Linked DNA regions of Homo sapiens: region 1 is linked to region 2. Evidence: fine-mapped expression QTL. A gene starts in region 2. The other region holds a variant in brackets. All regions are shown on one strand. Distances are between the middles of the regions.

What was found.
Region 1: its variant is fine-mapped to the expression of OAS2 in whole blood (TOPMed, PIP above 0.99).

Annotation. Positions count from the first base shown.
Region 1 is chr12:113,006,641-113,009,390 of GRCh38, forward strand. It overlaps OAS2 (2'-5'-oligoadenylate synthetase 2), which reads left to right. Exons shown (of 10, transcript NM_002535.3): 9 at 1,065-1,303; 10 at 2,447-2,750. The coding sequence ends at 2,615. Among named protein-coding and RNA genes, the nearest start is that of OAS2, 29 kb to the left of the region's middle. RefSeq lists an enhancer at 96-1,295. The variant T/C (reference allele first, on the strand shown) is at 1,367.
Region 2 is chr12:112,977,260-112,980,278 of GRCh38, forward strand. It overlaps OAS2 (2'-5'-oligoadenylate synthetase 2), which reads left to right and starts at 1,260. Exons shown (of 10, transcript NM_002535.3): 1 at 1,260-1,526. The coding sequence starts at 1,350. RefSeq lists enhancers at 805-1,614, 1,835-1,914, 2,085-2,164, 2,275-2,424.

The sequences.
Region 1 (2,750 bases), 29 kb after region 2:
TACCAGTAAGCCATGAACATTAAGCCCTGTTGCCCACAATCTCCCATGCTGAGGGCTGAGCCACTTTGGAGAATCTGCCCACTGGATATCTTTACGACGTTCCCATCACTAACCCTATTCATTTGGGTCAGGCGTTGATGGCTTCTGCCCATCAAAGCTGCTACATGTGGTTTACTTTGCCCTCACACTGGCCAAAGAATTCTGCAGGAATCCAAGTGACCTTGCCTACAGAGGGTGGGTGGAAGCTGGGATTCACATGCCCACACATTGCCAATAGGACTTTTCTGCTTCCCGGCGCACATGCTCTCTCTCAGAAGGCAGGTTGAAGCTGTAGGTGGAACCGGGGCTGCATTTTCTATACACCCAGCTCACAGGAGCTTGAACAACTGGTCAGCCCCTGAGCCCCTACTACAAGTGATCCTCAGGCAGGTAACCCCAGATTCATGCACTGTAGGGTGCTGAGCAGCATCCCTAGTCTCTACCCAGTTTCCCCTCACTTGCACACAAAGTAGCTTCTGAACATCCTCATGACAGTAAACATCAAGCACGATATCAGCTCTTCCTGAGATGCCTCCTTTCTGTGTCCAGCTCCCTGAAATGTGAAACCAAGACCAAACTCTGTAGTTTTCATCCCAGAAAATCAGAGAGCTGGCATGGCGTGTCAGAAGACTTGGGGCTGTGGCGTGACCTTGAGTGAGTCACTCCACTTCCCGCAGCTTCAAAGTCTTCATCTAAAATGCAGGTCATGCTGCCTGCATTGTGGGGAAGATTAGGAATGATGTGGGTAAATGCCTGGGCCCATAGCTGGCATGCAGTGGGTTTCTAGTAAACTGTAGCTATGTTATTGTCCTAGGAAGGCATATATGGTCAAAAGCACAACAAAGAAACTCAAATGTGCTGCTGCCAGGTGGACTCCTGTAGGCTGTACAATTTAGACATCCAAGCTGCAGAGTGTGAGCACACCAGCACGACACTGTGACTCAGTTGCCTTGCTGTGGTCCCTGTGCGGCTCTCACTGAGCTCCTAGGCTAACCAGTTCGTCTGATGTTCCCACTCTTACCTAGTGTGAAAGGAAACTGAAGCCAAAGGGGTCTTTGCCCCCAAAGTATGCCTTGGAGCTGCTCACCATCTATGCCTGGGAGCAGGGGAGTGGAGTGCCGGATTTTGACACTGCAGAAGGTTTCCGGACAGTCCTGGAGCTGGTCACACAATATCAGCAGCTCTGCATCTTCTGGAAGGTCAATTACAACTTTGAAGATGAGACCGTGAGGAAGTTTCTACTGAGCCAGTTGCAGAAAACCAGGTGCCTTCACCCTAGCCCCGTACTTTTCTTAACCTGATTCCCTTGAACACTGTCTCAGCAACC[T/C]GGATTTTCCTCTGCTGGGGTCACGATTCATTCCTTGCATGACGGGGGAAAGTGCTAGCCAACAGAACCTGTCACAGTCTCCAGGGATAAAACCTAGCAGGGGCAGGAGAAAATGCTGTTCAGAAAAAATAGAGAAGGAAGGTTCAAGATACCACGTCCCTGAGCTGCTTTCATCTAAGAGGTGTTAGAGTTGGAAGTGTGTCCCTAAGAATTAACGCTATCATTCACGGGCCGATTTATCCTGCAGGGTTTTTATTGGGTTAGGGTTTATCTACTCTTTCAGACCTTCAAGAATAGTAAGAAATCATATCCATCTGCTTAGGGCCACCAGCAAGGGACAAAAACAATGGAAACCAGAGGAAAGGAAAGAGAGAAAATAAAGGAGCGTTGAAAAAGAATAGAGGAGAAGTAAGAGAGAAGGAGACCCCCGGTGGGTTGCCTACCCTGGGTTCTTGGCAACATTGTATTTGATTAAATTATGTATCATATTTTAGCTGACATAGCAAGGAGGAGATATTTAGACTATGCCTTCATTATGCCTTCATGAGTATAGCAATTAACAGCTTTCAAAACGCTTTTGGCAAATACAATTTAATTCTAGGAAGTTGCTTTGGTTTTGGCTTTTGTTTTTGTTTTTGAGACAGAGCCTCACTCTGTCACCCAGGCTGGAGTGCAGTGGCACAATCTCAGCTCACTGCAACCTCTGCCTCCCGGGTTCAAGCTGGTTCTCCTGCCTCAGCCTCCGAAGTAGCTGGGACTACAGGTGCGCACCACCACGCCCAGCTAATTTTTGTATTTTTAGTAGAGATGGGGTTTCTGCATGTTGGCCAGGATGTTCTCGAACTCCTGGCCCTCAAGTGATCCTCCCACTTCAGCCTCCCAAAGTGCTGGGATTACAGGCATGAGCCACTGCACGCGGCCTCTAGAAAGTTACTTTGAACCCTACTAGTAAATTTGAGTTGCTGACATCTAAGCTGTAAGAACACATTGTCTTATTGCTGAAAGTATTATAGGATGGACCCCAAATTCTGAAGTCACTGGGATTTGGAATCTCCTAATGCCTTCTAACCTCTCATTCAGGCCTGTGATCTTGGACCCAGCCGAACCCACAGGTGACGTGGGTGGAGGGGACCGTTGGTGTTGGCATCTTCTGGCAAAAGAAGCAAAGGAATGGTTATCCTCTCCCTGCTTCAAGGATGGGACTGGAAACCCAATACCACCTTGGAAAGTGCCGGTAAAAGTCATCTAAAGGAGGCGTTGTCTGGAAATAGCCCTGTAACAGGCTTGAATCAAAGAACTTCTCCTACTGTAGCAACCTGAAATTAACTCAGACACAAATAAAGGAAACCCAGCTCACAGGAGCTTAAACAGCTGGTCAGCCCCC
Region 2 (3,019 bases):
TGGCAGGTGGGAGACCCAGGAAGGAGTTGCTGCTGCAAGTGGAGGCCAAGGCACTGCAGCCGAATTCCCTCTTCCTTGGGGGAGCTCAGTCTTTAGTCTATTAAGGCCTTCAACTGATTGAATCAGGCCCACCACCTTACAGATGATAATCCACTTTACTCAAAAAAAAAGTCTACCAATGTAAATGTTAATCTTATCTTTAAAAAATACCTTCACAAAAAGATCTAGGATAATGTTTGACCAAATATCTGGGTACCTGGGCTCAGCCAACTTGACACATAAAATTAACCATCCCAGTATGGAAGGGCCCTGGTCCCCCACTACATCTTGGAGATTTTTGCCTTCTCTGTGAATTATTATTGCTGGGCCAAGGCAGCTGGCTGGGAGTCCTCTGCGAGTTTTGTTTTCAAAGCTCTGGGCACAGGAGTTGCATGTCTGTCTCCTTTCTGGCTCACACACTTGGGGTGTGTTTTCTTGCCCTTGCGAGGCTGGACAAGTGCCTCATACGGTCCCTCGGCTGTCCACAAGTGTGCTGAGAAACTGGACACACAGAGGTTCCCACCCGCTGACCACACGGGGGCCTGTGTTTACCCAGAAGCAGACCAAAACCTGAGTCCAGCTAGGTCCCTGCTTTGCTGTGTGTCCCTGAGCAAGTCAGTTCCCTCTCTGGGTCTCTTTTTCCTCTCTGCCGCTTTCCCTGAATGTGAGTTCCCTGGCCACTGAGAACAGGGGGAAAGGGACAGAGCCTCAAAAGATGACCTGTGCGCCCCTGCTTCTAAGCACTTTGCAGGTATTATTTAATCATCAAGCTAATCCTACGAGAGAGCTGCCATTTTCCCCCAGCTTACAGATGGGGGAATTGAGGCGCGAAGAGGGCAGGCGATGTGCTCAAGGACAGACATCTAGCAGGTATGAAGCCCTCACAATGGGGTTCTAGAGGCTGTTTAGTTAACCTCAAGTTTTGGGGAGCCCCTGAAGGGCTGGTCACCACGCTGCCGGGGACAGGGAAAGCCTCTGAGCTTGAGTCAGTTTTGGTTTCCCTGCTGGGGTGCAGGAGTCAGTAAACCTTGCTGCAAGGGGCGGGGAAGAGCATTTGAGCTTAAGTTAGTTTTGGTTTCCCTGCCCCGGATGCAGGAGTTGGTAAACTCACTGCAAGGGGCAGGGCAGAGCCTCTGAGCTTAAGTTAGTTTTGTTTCCCTGTCCCGGATACAAGAGTTGGTAAGCTCGCTGCAGTGGGTGGAGAGAGGCCTCTAGACTTCAGTTTCAGTTTCCTGGCTCTGGGCAGCAGCAAGAATTCCTCTGCCTCCCATCCTACCATTCACTGTCTTGCCGGCAGCCAGCTGAGAGCAATGGGAAATGGGGAGTCCCAGCTGTCCTCGGTGCCTGCTCAGAAGCTGGGTTGGTTTATCCAGGAATACCTGAAGCCCTACGAAGAATGTCAGACACTGATCGACGAGATGGTGAACACCATCTGTGACGTCCTGCAGGAACCCGAACAGTTCCCCCTGGTGCAGGGAGTGGCCATAGTGAGTCCAGGGCTGAGGTTGGGTCTCTGGGAGGCAGGAGATTCCACGGCGGCAGCAAGGCCGAGCTACTGGGTGCTGGGTGCCTATTATGTGCGAGGCCCACACTTGGGTGGGATGTGGTGTAGGAGTCTCAGGCTCTGGAGCAGGCGCTTGCTCCAGAGCTGTGTGACACTGGGCAGGCTACTTAACCTCTCTGTGCCTCAGTCTCTGACTCTGTAAAATGGGGAGAGGCATAATACCCACTTCAGAGTATCGTAAGGCTTGAGCACATCATGTTCTTAGCAAAAGACTGGCAGTGCTCAGTGAATTCACTGTGATTACTCACTGCGATTTTCTTCTATCCTCTCCACAGTACAGAGGAGTAAACTTAGGGAGGCTAGAGAACTTTGTTCAAACTACCCAGGTTGCCTTGTGGTTTCTCCGCAGCAAGAAGGAGTGGCTTTTATCAGTTAGAAATATTTGGTTTTGTGGACACAAATCTCAGGACTGAGGCTGAAAATTCTGGACCTCTGGGGAGGAAGGGGGACTGGGGAGATGCCAGGACCCTAGAATTGGGGGCGTGGGGGTCCTGATGGCCCAATACTATCCTCTTAGCCTCCTGAGCTGCTGACGTCCCTTCTCTGCTGCTGCCACACTTTTTGGTCTCTACCCCTTGCACACATCCGCTAGTGCCTCAATAAAGAAATCTAGACACGTGGTGTCCCCAGCCCTGGCCCAGGCCAGCAAGCTAAGGCAAGTTTGGTTAATAGCTATTGTCAGAACTGGGATTTTAAGCCTGGGTAATTGGCTTGAGGGCATGCATGTTTAACCACTACACTATCCTGCCTCTCAATTTTTTTTTCCTCATGGAAGTAAAACAGAAAAAGTGCCCAGATCAAAGTGTCCAGCTTGATAGGTAGCCACAAACAATGTAACTGTGTAACCCCCACCCAGATCCAGAAACAAAACATTCTCAGCCCCCCAGAGCCCTGGGCCCCCGATCCAGTCAGCACCTCCAAACCCAGGTAGGCAATCTCCTGACTTCTAACAGCATAGACACGTTTTGCCTGTTTTTAAACGTTTTACAATTATAGGGTGACCAACTATCCCAGTTCATCCAAGATTGGGGTGTTTCCTGGGATGTGGGACTCTTGGTGTGAAAGCTGGGAATGTAAACCAGGATGCATGGGTGAACCCTACATAAATGGCATCATGGGCTCTGTGTGCTTTAGTGCGTGGTTTCTCTGACCTATGATGTTTATGAAATTTATGTTGTGGGGTACAGTTGTTTATCTTTTCATTGTTGTGTCAATTCCATTATGTGAATATTCCACATTTGTCCATTCTACTGTGTTTTTTTATTTTTACATAATTGTGCATATTTATATGGGGTACATGTGATATTTGGACACATGGATACAATGTGAAATGATCAGGGTAGTTAGGATATCCATCACCTCAAACATTGATCATTTATTTGTGTTGAGAACAGTTCAGATCTTCTCTTCTAACTA